Linked DNA regions of Homo sapiens. The protein of the gene in region 2 purifies or fractionates together with the protein of the main gene of each other region. This does not show direct contact. Each region holds a gene or a part of one and is shown on either strand. Other genes may lie near its edges.

Region 1 (4,273 bases), on a different chromosome or scaffold from region 2:
CTGGGAGAGCTGGAGAGGGGCACCCTAGCTCCCTGTGTGGGGTCCTGGGGGGGTCTGGGAGAGCTGGAGAGGGGGCACCCTAGCTTCCTGTGTGGGGTCCTGGGGGGTCTGGGAGAGCTGGAGAGGGTGCACCCTAGCTTCCTGTGTGGGGTCCTGGGGGGTCTGGGAGAGCTGAAGAGGGGGCACCCTAGCTCCCTGTGTGGAGGGCTGGGGGAATTCTGGAGAGGCGAGCTGGAGAGGGGTACCCTAGCTCCCTGTGTGGAGGGCTGGGGGAATCCTGGAGAGGAGAGCTGGAGAGGGGGCACCCTAGCTTCGTGTGTGGGGGGCTGGGGGAATCCTGGAGAGGAGCACCCTAGCTTCATGCATGAACCAGCAGCACAAGTCCCAGGCTCACTACGAGCTGCACTTGCACAGGTGACCCAAAACAACGCAGCAGAGGCTCTGGAGGCTGAGCTGACATTGGAAGCTTTGCACAAAGAGGCAAGGAAGAGCTTGGGCACTGGAATTAACCGTGTTGGTTGTTGCTAAAACAAACAAACAAAAAAACCTGACACGCTAAAGGATTTTTAAAAATACCCAAAGTCTCAAATATGTAAAATGTCCAGGTTGCAATAAAGCGTTATTTGGCGTAACAACAACCAGGAAAATCTGAATAATTCTCAAGCGAGAAGAGAACCAGTAGGGTTAGATTTTTCCAGTAACATGAAATTAGACCGACACACACACACACCCACACACACACACACAAAATCAAAGAAATGAAAAATTATGTTCTGGTAAATATGAACTGGAACAATTAGTGTAATTGCACTTTTTAAAATGTATATATTTCCTGGCTGTTCACTGAAGGAATCTAGATGAAATGATACCCCTTGAGCTCTAAGCTTGGTTTCTCAACATAACCTCTCAACGAGGCTCAGGCTCTTTAGAGGAACAGCTAATTCCACGTCTGGAAGTTCAAGGTGAGCCTGGCCTCTCTTAGTGGCCAAAAAGCAAGGAAGTTTTCAAAGACCAACAGGGCATGTCAAAAGGACTCAGGTGCCAGCTTGAAGGGATCTGGCCAGCCCAATTTGGGATAATTTGAGTCTCAAGAAGATATTGACCACCAAAGAGTCTACTGTCTGGTTCCATTAATATGAAGTTCTAGAAAGTCACATGCACACAGTTACAGAAATACAGAAATCAGGCCAGCAGAAGGTTGCACAGGGGGACAAGAGCACCCTCCCGGGTGATGGAAACGTTCTGCACCTGGGTGGGGGTGTGGGTGACACAGGCATAGTCATGTGTCCAAAAACCCAATCAACTGCACATTTAAAAATCTGCACTTAACTATATGTAAATTACAGTAAGTCCTCACTTAACATCAATGGATTCCTGGAAACTGTGATGGTTAAGTGAAGTAATGTATAGCAGGTCCTCAAATAACATCATTTTGTTCAACATTCTTTCTTCCTTTAAAAAAAAAAAAAAAAAAATTCTGGGGCCGGGCGCCATGGTTCAACCTGTAATCCCAGCACTTTGGGAGGCCGAGGTGGATGGATTACCTGAGGTCAGGAGTTCGAGACCAGCCTAACCAACACAGAGAAACCCCATCTCTACTAAAAAATACAAAATTAGCCGGGCGTGGTGGTGCGTGCCTGTAATCCCAGCTACTTGGGAGGCTGAGGCAGGAGAATTTCTTGAACCCGGGAGGCGGAGGTTGCGGTGAGCCGAGATGCGCCACTGGACTCCAGCCGGGCAACAGGAGAGAAACTCCATCTCAAAACAAACAAACAAACAAATAAAAATAAATAAATTTAAAAAATACTCTGTAGAGAAGGGGTTTTGCCACGTTGCCCAGGCTGGTCTCGAATGCCTGAGCTCAAGCAATCCACCAGCCTCAGCCTCCCAAATTGCTGGGATTACAGATATGCAGCACTGCGCCTGGCCAACACAGTTTCATTATAGTTTCTGAGAAGAAAAAAAATCTGTTTCATTATACATCATCTTACTTAGTCATTTCACTTAAAATTGCAGTTTCTAAGGACCTATCAACAACATAAAGTGAGGGCCTACCGTGTACCTTAACATACCTAACGTGTGTGTGTTGGGCGGGATTTGGCTACGGTTGATGTTAAAACATTAAACACTGAGGCAGGAGGATTGCTTGAGCCCAAGAGTACAAGGCTGCAGTGAGGCAAGATCATGCCACTGCACTCCAGCCTGGGTGATGGAGTGAGAGACCTTCTCAAAAACAGAAACAAAAAAGTTAAACAAAAATCCTCTAATCCATAGTAATACTTTAAAAAGAGAGGAAAAATGAAAGGAATAAACCCATTTTGCCATGCCCTACCTTGAAAATTAAAAATAATTTAAAGGGAAAAAGCATTTATCTTGCTTAAAAAAAAAAAAAGCGTATTATCCCTCTCGTATCTTGCTTTTTAAGGAATAGAGTTCATTTCTACCTGATCTGCACAAAGCTCTTCGTTATAAAGGAAACAGCTAATACACACAGAGGAACAGAATCTGAAGATATCATCCTGGAGCCCCATGGACCCCACGAGACATGGATGCTGACACCATCCAGTCAAACGTTGAGGACAGAATATTCACACAGCGCCAGAACCTCCCTCGAGATGAGCTGATAGTCATAAAGGGAAACATCCCAAAAGTTAGGGCACTTCCACACGGCCACAGCACCACAGCACCACGCATCGAAAGGAAGGTGTAGAAACCCCACAGTCCCACCTGTTCTCTGTGGTCTCGATGCCTCTGCGTCCGCTTTCCTCTTGTTATCCGCCCACCTCGGTCTCCCAAAGTGCGGGGATTACAGGTGTGAACCACCACACCTGGCTCTGCGTCTACTTTCTATATGCACATTCTACTGAATCACCTGGCTGGAATCGAGTTTCACCTTCTCCAGAAAACCTCCTTGTGTAGGTACAAATATGCACACCTCATCTCCCCAACTACGTGTCACTTCTTACGTGATTCACAGCATCCAGTCAAGAAATGTGCTGAGCCGACACATTAACAACGGGGAGTTCGGGTGGAGATGCCATCTAAGAGCCTCAGCGCACTCATGGCCACATGAAAACCCTCGCAGTTTCTGCAGGTGGAAGAAGCCCAGCACAAAGACCCACCTACTGTAGGGTTCCATTTACATCAAATGCCCAAACAGGCAAACCCAGAGACAGGAAGTGGATCAGTGGCTACTGAGGGCTGGGGGAGGATGGTGACAGGTAAGGGATGCCAGGTTTCTTTTTGGAGTGATGAAAATATCCGAATGGGGGGGTGAGGGGAGGGGGAATATCAGGATAAACAGCTAATGCATGTGGGGCCTAATGCCCAGGTGACGGGGTGATGGGTGCAGCAAACCACCATGGCATGTGCTTACTTATGTAACAAACCTGCACTTTCTGCACATGGATCCCAGAAATCAAAGTAAAATTAAAAAAAAGAAAAAAAAAGAAAATGTCACTATTGACTGGCAATAGTCATGCCACTAAAAGTCATTGAATTCTGCACTTTAAATGGGTGAGTTGGATGGCGTAACTTTACATCCCAATAAAGCTGTTAACAACCAAAGAGCCTACGGAGACAGAGTTCACAATCTCTAACCAATGCCACTTGGTTTGTCCCCGCAACATGGACCTCGCGGGCAGACAAGCTCATCGTGACAAGGACACCAGCAGCTCCATTCCCGGCACTCGCTCTGCCCCAGGCTCGGTGCTCAGCGCTCACACACGTTGTTTTGAGGAATTCCTAGAACATCCCCATAAGGTACTGAGGAGATGGAGGCTGGAGGCCAGGCTAGATCATGGGAAAGCCACCTCAGGCTGCCCAGATGACTGCAGAGGCAGCACCAGCTCCTCCCTACCTTGCGATACGAAGCACCCTCCTCCGCTTTAGCGACTCGCTGGTTCACGTAGAACACACGGGGGATGCTCAGCCTGATGCAGTGCAAGTCACTGCCAACGAGCGCCCACAGCCTGAACAGGCCGGCCTGGCTGGTCTCGCTGATCTGAAAGGCCACACGGACATACAGCACATCACAGGACACACTGGAACCCACAGACGGGGCCACCTTCCAGGTAGCTTGCAGCTCCCAGCACAGGGCCTTAGGCCTCCCTACGATGGGCAGGAAACTCCAGGCCCACTCTAACCCTCCCATCCCAGACCTCAGGGCCCAGCTGGACACCCCCTCCCTGGGCCATCAGCAGAGCCACTGCCCTCCCCTTGGATCAAGGTCTATACCTGCACAATCTGCCACGGAAGGTCCAGGATGCTGCGG
Region 2 (5,108 bases):
AAAATGTACCTGGTAAATATTCTTTCTTCCATAATTTACTTTTAGGAGGCAGCAAATCAAGAAATAAACAGTAAAAAATGTTCTTCATACCACAGTGTCATGGCATAGAAGGGGCAAGAAATCATATTTCCAAGTAAAATGTTATTAGCTGGCACTATTAAAGAGAAACAAGGCATAGGATTGGGAATATAAGCACTGCAGATAGGGTTTTTAAAAAGTTGTTCAGGTTTATAGTAATTATTGTCCATCTAAAAATGTTCTATAGGCTAGGTATGATGACTCAGGCTCACAGCTGTAATCACAACCCTTCAGCACGCCAAGGCAGGAGAACAGCTTGAGCCCAAGAGTTTGAGACCAACCTGGGCAACATAGTGAGACTCCATCTCTACAAAAAATTAAAAAAAGAAAAAAATTAGCCAGGCATAATGGTGTCCACCTGTGGCCCTAGCTACTGGGAAGAATGAAGTGGGAGGATCACTTGAGCCCAAAGGTCGAGGCTGCAGTGAGCCATGATTGCACCATTGCACTCCAGCCCAGCCTGGGCAACAGAAGAAGACCCTGTCTCGAAAAAAAAAAACAAAAGTTTATAAAAGATTCTGCATAACATAATAGAAAATATTTTAAATTGTTCCATTTTATTTGTTCATGATATCTCCCAGTGCTCAAAACATTATGTGCATATGTATAGACACACATACATTCCTACAGATATATAACTCTGAAAGCAATTTCAGTCTTATAATTACTACTGGCAGTATACCTACAAATGAAAACATTCCTTCCCCAATCTTTTGTATTAGATTAATATGCAAGTTTCTTTTTATCTAAACTGAATTGTCAACACATTTATCCTTTTAGAATTTTCAACTACATTGCAGGGAGCATATTTAAAAAAAAAAATAGACCGTTTCATTTTCAGACCAAATTAAAATATCAGGTACCACTCTGATATTTTTTTTCAAAATTACCTTGTCTGGATCCATCTTTCCTTTGATAAATTCTTGCTTCCAGAACTGCAATGCCTGTTCCAAAGTTAAACCAATGCCCTTCAGAAATAGGCCATACTGCATTCGGCCTCCATGACGAAGATGGTGATTTTCCCGCAAGGCTTTATGTAACTGACGCATGCAAGGTGGGAAGGATTTGGTAGAAAGCTACAAGAAAAAAATAGTAGAGTTTTAAGTTAAGTGGAAGACTTATCAGGTCCCCTGTAATATTTGTTATGGTTCCTAATTCAATTTAATTGGAATAAAAAAAAAACACCATAAGAAAGTGCCACTTTATTACTGTGGTTACAGATGACTCTTATCTGTATAAGATGTTTCTTATTAACATTTTTTACTGGTTACAAGTTAATATAATATTTTAGATACTTTGGATTAAATAACATACTATTAAAATTTATTTTACCTGTTTTTTTAATTTAATTAAACTTTTTCTTTGAAGTTAACTACAGACTCCCATACAGTTACAAGAAATAATACAAAGAGATAGCATATATCCAAATTCCCCCAAAGATAAAATCATATACAACTACAGTAGATTATCACAAACAGGATACTGACATTGATACAATCCACTAGTCTTATTCAGGTTTCCTCAGTTGTACTCATGCACTTACTTCCGTATTAAATTTTATACAGTTTTGTCACATGTAGGTTCATACATCCACCACCACAGTCAACATGCAGAACAGTTCTGTCACCACAAGGATCTCTCATGATTTTATAACCACCCCCATCTATCTTTTGCACCCTGCTCCCCTCCCTCAGCTCCCTAATCTTTGGCAACCACTGATCTGGTTCTCCATCTCTATAATTTTGTCATTTCAAGAGTATAATAGAATCATATAATATGTATTGTTTTGAGATTGTCATTTTTTACTCAGCAGAATTCCCTCAAGATTCATCTAAGTTGTATATAAGCTCATTTCTTTATTACTAATAGTTTTCCATGGTATGAATGTATCATAATTTATTTATTCACTCATTGAAGAACACTTGGGTTGTTTCCAGTTTGGGCTATTTCAAATGAAGGTATTATAAGCATTCTTGAAGAGGTTTTTATGTGAACATAAGATTTCATTTCCCTGAGATAAAAGTACAATTGCTGAATAGCAGATGAACTTTTAAGATAACTCAAATACAAAGCAGAATACAAAAATAAGAGAAACTTCTCATAAGGAAAATTCAAATAAATATGTTAAAGAAACCAAGTTAAAAGGAACAAAGTGTAGTTAGTGCCTTAGTGCCAAAAATGAAATATCATTGCCTACTTTAATTTTTCACTTACGGTTTCAATTGCATTCTCTATGACTTCCTTAAATATCCTCCCAAGACTTAAATTCTTACTCCCTCACATATGCCTTAGCAAGTTCACTTCATCTATAAGAAAGAGCAGGTCTCACTTTGCTTGACTTTGCTGCTCCCTCTAGTGACCATCTAGTTTCTCTTCATTCTTTTACAGTAACAACTTCTGATTTTTTCCATCCCCAGTCTAGTTCATTCAGACCTATATCCTCCCTTGGTTCTATATCTAGAACTAACTAGAAAGCCTTTCAGCTCCTTTTCATGAGACCATTTTTGTTCCTTCATATTAATATCTGATTTTTTTCTAAACATTGTTCTAATCCATACAATCAATATTCAACATCCTTAGTATGAACATGCAAGGTTTCCTCAATATCTGGTAACTACCTTTCTTTTTTTTTCTTCTTTTTTTATTTTTTTGAGATGGAATCTCACTCTGTTGCCCAGGCTGGAGTGCAGCAGTGCCATCTCGGCTCACTATAACCTCTGCCTCCCAGGTTCATGCGATTCTCCTGCTTCAGCCTCCTGAGTAGCAGGGATTACAGGTGCCTGCCAACATGCCCAGCTGATTTTGGTATTTGTAGTAGAGACAGAGTTTCACCATGTTGGCCACGCTGGTCTCGAACTCCTGACCTCAGGTGATCCTCCCACCTTGGCCTCTCAAAGTGCTAGGATTGCAGATGGCATGACCCACTGCGCCTGGCCAATAACTACTTTTCAATTATACATAACAGAACAATTATTTATTAAGTGTTCTGGAAAATAAGCTAGGACCTAATTGTCCCCTTTAATTCAGTTAAGGAAAAAGACACCACAATTATTATATTCACTACTATGTAAGTTAAACACATGAAATAAATGATAAAATGAGGGCTCCAACAAGGGCAAAACTTGAGCACCACAGAAGCACTGTGACAGGGAGCCTGGGAAAGCCCAGTATATTATTACTACACCAAAATGAGTCCTCGGCTCCAGTCCACTGGATTATTCAATATCCCATGACCACGCAGTCATGCTCTGTAGCTTCTCATTTTTCTCACTCTGCTAGCCCTGCCTGGTGCACCCTTCTCATGCACATGCCATGTAGCCAAAGCCAAGTCATCATTCAAGACCCACCTCAATTTCTATTTCTTTTGGCACATTCCTTGATTACTTCTTATTCATTCAATCAACAAATATTTATTTAACACTTACTATGTGTACAGCCCTGGGGAACCAGTAGTGAACAAAGAAGTCAAAAACCCTGTCCTCGAAGAGCTTATTTTTAATAGGAGGAGACGGACAATGAATACAGACATTAAAAAGATAACATCTGATGCCAAAACACTGGAAATGAAATAGAGAAATGAAATCAAGTGTGATTAGGGGAGAGGTACTTCAATTTGGGTGGCCAGGGAAGCCTTTTTGAGGAGATGGCATTTCAAGTAAGACAAAGTAAGTTGGATTCTAGTGAAATGAAGATCCTGAGAAGGAATAAATGTGGTGTGCTAAAAGAGAGAATAAGATCCATGTGACCAGAGCAAGTGAATGAGCCGGAATGGAGCAGAAGATAAAATAGAAATGATGAGCACATATGGCTTCAGAGGCCACAACATGAGTTTGGATTTAAGTCTACATATGATAAAAACCCACTAGAGGGTTCTGACCAGAAGACTGATGTGATTCAATACACAAAGAGAACTCTGGCTGTTATGTAGTGAAAAGACTATATGAGAGTAAGAATGGAAGCAGGAGGGATACTTAAGAGGTGTGGGCAGTAGTCCAAATAATAAAAATTAAAAAGATAGTGTCTGGCTATATACAGATAGAAAAATGATCATGGAAAACAAGCAAACAAAAGAATCATAAGTCCAGGATAGGGGATAAATTATCAACTTGGATCTTGCAGAGGCCAAGAACAATAACAACAATAGCGCCAGTACACAAGACCATTAGCTAGGTGTTCAAATCATCAACGAATACAGGTGTGGGGGGAGGGGGTCGAATAGCAACAAAGGAGGTATCAGATGATATAATAAGATCACAAGGGCTTTAAAGGAGCTGGAGCTGTAACAATGGAAGGCAGAGAAATGCGGACCAAGAAAGACACTCACCGCATACCTATATATGAACTCGGGGGGAAAGTTGTCTCTACTTGAAGAGGCCCACAGCGGAAACAGCATTGAGAAAGCCAGATTTGTTAGAAGAAAAAACTAAAGAAAACATTTGGAGAAGAGTTGCAAATACCAAGGGATATGCAAATGACATGCTGTTGTGAAGATCAAACAATATAGATACAGAGTTAGGAGGCAGTCCAGAAAAAGATACATCTGTATTACTCACCACGGGGTCTCAGGCACAGACCCATGACAGGATCATCATCATAGCACTTAACATTATATTGCTCATTTATTATTTATTATGTTGTCCCTCTCCCTCATGTAAGGTCCATGAAGGCAGGGACATTTTCTGTTTTCCTCACTTCTGTATCCACAGCACAATGGCTGCTACATAACTGATGGGCTCAATACATATCCATTAAATGAATTAATATTTCTATGAACTCCAACAGTATCCAATGAAATTCACATTTGCTTGTGAATAGGGAAACATCTAGCTAGAACTAAGAACAGAATTAACCTCCAACCATTCACATTATATAAGCACAAATCACATGAGTGGAAGTGAGAAAGTGGACTGTTAGAGATAAGTGTTTAATAAAAAAATTAAAAGATGGGACATCTTTGAGAACAAATTTCAAATCAACAAATCAACTGTGTAAAGTAGGCAACCCTACTGTTATTTCTAGACATATTAACT

The links. The genes of interacting proteins can lie anywhere in the genome.
Region 1: the proteins of PRIM2 (region 2) and POLE fractionate together in Homo sapiens (co-fractionation; one large-scale study listed by BioGRID). This does not show direct contact.

What each region holds. Positions count from the first base shown.
Region 1 is NC_000012.12:132,645,070-132,649,342, forward strand, and holds part of POLE (DNA polymerase epsilon catalytic subunit A), read right to left. Parts: coding exon 4,237-4,273; intron 4,004-4,236; coding exon 3,860-4,003; intron 1-3,859. UniProt on the Homo sapiens protein: Catalytic component of the DNA polymerase epsilon complex. Participates in chromosomal DNA replication.
Region 2 is NC_000006.12:57,533,486-57,538,593, reverse strand, and holds part of PRIM2 (DNA primase large subunit), read right to left. Parts: intron 1,155-5,108; coding exon 969-1,154; intron 1-968. UniProt on the Homo sapiens protein: Regulatory subunit of the DNA primase complex and component of the DNA polymerase alpha complex (also known as the alpha DNA polymerase-primase complex) which play an essential role in the initiation of DNA synthesis.